Homo sapiens: one gene and its partner. The protein of the gene in region 1 interacts with the protein of each later gene in a pairwise test. Each region holds a gene or a part of one and is shown in the gene's direction. Other genes may lie near its edges.

Region 1 (2,213 bases):
CGTGGCCTCAAAGGGGCGATATGTCACAACATCAACAAGCATGTGGCATTTGCAGGCAGGAAGTGAGTATGGGGGTCAGGCTAGCCTCACTCAGGCAAGCCCTCCCCTAAGCCTCAGTTTCCCCATCTGAGCAATAAGGTAACAGGTGTGCCCACCTCTCAGGGCTGCTATGAGGACAACTGAGGCCACACACCTGGCTCTCAATAAGTGAGTGGTGCTCTGTGAGCTTCTGGCGAGTTAGGGGCACCCTACTCATTGCGGCCGGGGGCCTCCCCCAGCAAACGGGTGGAAAGAGGCCTGAGCCCCATCCCCAGTTTCTGCCCCTGCTATCTCCACCCAGGATCCACCAGAAGATATGAAGCAGGACCGGGACATTCAGGTGAGTTGGTGGCTAGGGCTTGGGATGGGGGAGTTGGGAGGGGGACATCTGCAGGCACAGAAGGATGTCCATTAGGGCAGGAGGGGAGATATTCACTGGGGCAGGAAGAGGACTCGTCTGTAGGGAGAGGAGGGCTGATGCTTATGTTGGTGCAGAAGGGGTGACACCCCCCCACCTCATCCCCACCTGCCCCATTCCACAGGCAGTGGCGACCTCCCTCCTGCCACTGACAGAAGCCAACCTACGCATGTTTCAACGTGCCCAGGACGACCTTATCCCTGCTGTGGACCGGCAGTTTGCCTGCTCCTCCTGCGACCACGTCTGGTGGCGCCGCGTGCCCCAGCGGAAGGAGGTGATGACCTAAAACTTAACCTCGACTTTGACTGTCCCGAACTCCACTCCTGACTCCTATCCTCAGTGACTGTACCTCTGACCTAAGGATTTCAATCACTGAGAGTCCAATCCCTGACCTCCAAACTCAGAGCTCAGCCTTGATCTCTGATCCCAACCCCTGACCCAGGACTGGACTTCTGACCTTAAATGTGAGAAGCCCAATACCTCCTTACCCCAGAACCTGACCCTTGACCCACAATTGAACAGCTACTACAGAAATCAAACCTGGCCAGGCGCAGTGGCTCATGGCTGCAATCTCAGTGTTTTGGGAGGCTAAGTAGGGAGGATCGCTTGAATTTAGGAGTTTGAGACCAGCCTGGGTGACAGGGTGAGACCCTGTCTCCAAAAAAAAATGTGTTTTGAAGACAGGGGGTCTCGCCCTGTCACCCAGGCTGGAGTGCAGTGGCGGGATCATAGCTCACTGCAGCCTCCACCTCCTGGCCTCAGGTGATCCTCCCACCTCAACCTCCCAAGCAGCTGGGACTACAGGCCTGCGCCACCACACTTGGCTAATTTTTGTATTTTGTGTGTGTGTGTGGAGATGGGGTTTTGCCATGTTGCCCAAGCTGGTCTCAAACTCCTGGGCTCAAGCAATCTACCACCTCAGCCTCCCAAAGTGCTGGGATTACAGGCATGAGCCACTGTGCCTGGCAAAAAAAAATTTTTTTAATTAGCTGGGAGTGGTGGTGTGTGCCTGTGGTCCCAACTACTCAGGAGGCTGAGGTGGGAGGATCGTTTGAGCCTGGGAGGTCGAGGCTGCAGTAAGCCATGATCACAACACTGCATTCCAGCCTGGGTGACAGAGCAAGACTCTGTCTCTAAAAAAAAAAAGAAAGAAAGAAAAGAAACCAAATCTGACCTCAAAAACACAGCCCCAAATCTGGCTTCTGAACCTCCTGACTAGTAGTTCACTTCTGGTCAATGCTTAACTAGTTCTTGCAAAAGAGGCAGGAAGCCAAGATGTGTAGTGTTTGCCAATTTCTGTGGTGTAAATATTCCCACCATGGTCAATATCAGGCTACCCACGTGAAGTCACTGATTGAGTTGGGTTGCTCAAGCTGAGGCCAGCCGCTGCAGCACACTGCTAGCCCTGACCCCAACCTCAGACACCTCTGACAATCCTTGGTCCCCTCTCTGTACCTTCCTGCCCACCACCACCAGGTATCCCGGTGCCGGAAATGCCGGAAGCGCTACGAGCCAGTGCCAGCTGACAAGATGTGGGGCCTGGCTGAGTTCCACTGCCCGAAGTGTCGGCACAACTTCCGGTGAGGGCGCTGACCCCCAGCTCCCCCTCAGCCCTGCCCTACCCCAGCCCTGCCCCTCCCTGCCCTGGCCCCACCCTGGCCCAGCCTCGCCCTCGGACCCTCACAGCCCTGCCCGCCCCCAGGGGCTGGGCACAGATGGGGTCCCCGTCCCCCTGCTACGGGTGCGGCTTCCCCGT
Region 2 (3,500 bases), on another chromosome or scaffold:
AAAAAATTAACAGGAAATAATAGAGGCTAAAGTTCTCTGTCATCTGTCAGCCAGTGAGCTACTGAGTGTGTGTATGTGTGTGTGTATTCCCTTCCGTCTTTTTAAAAATTTTTATTTTTAGGGACAGGATCTTTTTTTTTTTTTTTTTTTTTTGAGACAGAGTCTCGCTGTGTCACCCAGGCTGGAGTGTGGTGGCGCCATCTTGGCTCACTGCAACCTCTGCCTCCTGGGTTCAAGTGATTCTCCTGCCTCAGCCTCCTGAGTAGCTGGGTTTGCAAGCACCCACCACCATGCCCAGCTAATTTTTGTATTTTTAGTAGAGATGGGGTTTCACTATGTTGGCCAGGCTGGTCTCGAACTCCTGACCTCAGATGATAGCCCACCTCAGCCTCCCAAAGTGCTGGGATTACAGGCGTGAGCCATCACGCCCGGCCCCATAGTGTATAGACTACTACAGACTATTTAATATTTCTGCATTTTCACCTAACATCATAATTTTATCATTTTCTTAAATTGCATCCCAGTCTTCATAATTATCAAAGAATGTAAAACTCAGTTTTTAAAAACGTTCAGTTGCTTTGCTATTTAAACAAAATCCCATATATCTTCAGACCAAACTGTCTTAGTTTGCTACGTATAAGAATTATTAATTCGTGGCCAGGCGCGGTGGCTCACGCCTGTAATTCCAGCACTTTGGGAGGCTGAGGCAGGTGGATCACGAGGTCAGGAGATCGAGACCATCCTGGCTAACACAGTGAAACCCGGTCTCTACTAAAAATACAAAAAATTAGCTGGGCATGGTGGCGGGCACCTGTAGTCTCAGCTACTCGGGAGGCTGAGGCAGGAGAATGGCATGAACCCAGGAGGCGGAGCTTGCAGTGGGCTGAGATCACGCCACTGCACTCCAGCCTGGGCAACAGAGCGAGACTCCATCTCAAAAAAAAAAAAAAAAGAATTATTAATTCGTTTTGACCTAAACTTGGAATTGAATTTTTTTTCTGAAACAAAAACTTGTTTCCTCTTGTCTTAGGTATGCAGAGAAGGAGAAGAAAAATCTTAGATACGTCAGTGGCATATGTGCGGGGAGAAGAGAACTTAGCAGGCTGGCGGCCCCGTGGAGACAGCCTCATCCTTGAGCACCAGTGGGAGCTGGAGAAGCTGGAGCTCCTACATGAGGTATCCAGGGGCAGGGTTGTTCAGATGCAAGAACTCTCGGACAAGATTGCCAAAGTATCAGTCTTCCTCCCCGCTGCTGCATGTGATCATAGCTTTTCACTTTTCTCTCCTGAGGTCTTAACGAGCTTTGTGTTTGCTATAGCAGTAGTATTGATCTTCTCAGGTGGAAAAAACCCGCCACTTTTTGCTGCTGCGTGAGAGACTTGGTGACAGCATCCCCAAATCCCTGAGCGACTCGTTATCCCCCAGCCTCAGCAGTGGGACCCTCAGCACCTCCACCAGTATCTCCTCTCAGATCTCAACCACTACCTTTGAAAGCGCCATCACACCTAGCGAGAGCAGTGGCTATGATTCAGGAGACATCGAAAGCCTGGTGGACCGAGAGAAAGAGCTGGCTACCAAGGTGTGAATCCCTTCCTCTTTGCTGAACGTCTTCCCACAAGGCTCCACAAACTAGCCTCTCGGTTTATTCATTTTCAACACCTTTGTTCGAGGTGTTTGAAGGCCTGTGATAATACTGTGAATGTAGAAATAAAAAGACGCAGTTCCTACCCTCAACAAGCTTACAGGGCCAGGCACAGTGCCTGATGCCTATTATCCCACCACTTTGGGAGGCTGAAGCAAAGGGATTGCTTGAGCCCAGGAGTTAAAGACAAGCCCAGGCTAACATAGTGAGACCTTGTCTCTACAAAAACAAAAATTAGGCCAGGCATGGTGGCTCACACCTGTAATCCCAGCACTTTGCAGGGCTGAGGCAGGTGGATTACCTGAGGTCTGGAGTTCGAGACCAGCCTGGCCAACATGGTGAAACCCTGTCTCTACTAAAAATACAAAAATTAGCCAGGCGTGGTGGCGAGCGCCTGTAATCCCAGCTACTCAGGAGGCTGAGGCAGGAGAATTGCTTGAACCCAGGAGGCGGAGATTGCAGTGAGCCGAGATAGCTCCACTGTGCTCCAGCCTGAGCGACAGAGTGACACTCCATCTCAAAAAATAAAATAAAATAATAAAAAATTAAAAAATTAAAAAATATAAAGGTTGCAGAATATTAGGTCACAAGCATATAATAGAGATGTGTGTTTCAAATGCTATGGGAGTCAGAGGAGAAGTGTCTATGGTGGGGAGCTCATGAGCTGACCTTGAAAGGATGCGCAGGAGGGAGGCAGCAGTGTCGACACCTGCGTGATCAGGAGGGAGGCAGTGGTGTCCTGCGTGATCAGGAGGGAGGCAGCGGTGTCTTGCGTGATCAGGAGGGAGGCAGCGGTGTCCTGCGTGATCAGGAGGGAGGCAGTGGTGTCCTGCATGATCAGTCTTGGGGAATTCACGTGGGACTGGAACAGGAGGTGTGGAGTGAAGAATCTTGTATACTGCACTGAAGAGTTTAGAGTGGATGATGGGAGCAAGGCAGAAATATGTTAAACAGGTATTTGTGTTTTAGAAAGATTTCTGGCGAGGGGCGGTGGCTCACGCCTGTAATCCCACCACTTTGAGAGGCCGAGGCAGGTGGATCACAAGGTCAGGAGATTGAGACCATCCTGGCCAACATGGTGAAACCCCGTGTCTACTAAAAATACAAAAATTAGCCGAACGTGGTGGCGTGCGCCTGTAGTCCCAGCTACTAAGGAGGCTGAGGCAGGAGAATCGCTTGAACCCAGGTGGCGGAGGCTGCAGTGAGCCGAGATCGCGCCACTGCACTCCAGCCTGGGCAACAGAGTGAGACACCATCTCAAAAAATATATATATTTCTCTGGCAGCAATAAAGAGAATGGATTGATGGTGAAGAGATACACTGAGGAAGGGAGAATTCTTTATCTTTATTACAGTAATCTGATGAGAAATGATAAAAGCTTTTTAAAATTTTATTTTTTTTGAGATGGAGTCTCACTCCTGTCACACAGGCTGGGATGCAGTGGCATGATCTTGGCTCACTGCAACCTCCACTTCCCAGGTTCAAGCGATTCTCCTTCCTCAGCCTCCCAAGTAGCTTGGAGTACAGGCATGTGCCACCACACCTGGCTAATTTTTGTATTTTTAGTAGAGACAGAGTTTCACCATGTTGGCCAGGCTGGTCTTGAACTCCTGACCTCAGGTGATCCACCCGCCTCAGCCTCCCAAAGTGCTAGGATTACAGGTGTGTGGACGCCCAGCCAGATAAAAGTTTTTTAAAGAAGGCAGAGGTGGCTGGGTGCGGTGGCACACGCCTGTAATCCCAGCACTTTGGGAGGCTGAGGTGGGCGGATTGTGAGGTCAAGAGATCACTATGATGTTTTTATTTTTTATTTTTATCTTTATTAAATTTTTTTTTTTTTTGAGATGGAGTCTTGCTC

The links. The genes of interacting proteins can lie anywhere in the genome.
Region 2: the proteins of SHFL (region 1) and KIF1B interact in binary tests that used the Homo sapiens proteins (3 or more experiments, as listed by UniProt).

What each region holds. Positions count from the first base shown.
Region 1 is NC_000019.10:10,089,317-10,091,529, forward strand, and holds part of SHFL (shiftless antiviral inhibitor of ribosomal frameshifting protein), read left to right. Parts: coding exon of another isoform or gene 1-62; intron 63-162; coding exon of another isoform or gene 163-173; exon of another isoform or gene 174-334; intron 335-340; coding exon 341-379; intron 380-581; coding exon 582-731; intron 732-1,933; coding exon 1,934-2,037; exon of another isoform or gene 2,038-2,159; coding exon 2,160-2,213.
Region 2 is NC_000001.11:10,364,070-10,367,569, forward strand, and holds part of KIF1B (kinesin-like protein KIF1B), read left to right. Parts: intron 1-1,030; coding exon 1,031-1,176; intron 1,177-1,339; coding exon 1,340-1,579; intron 1,580-3,500. UniProt on the Homo sapiens protein: Has a plus-end-directed microtubule motor activity and functions as a motor for transport of vesicles and organelles along microtubules.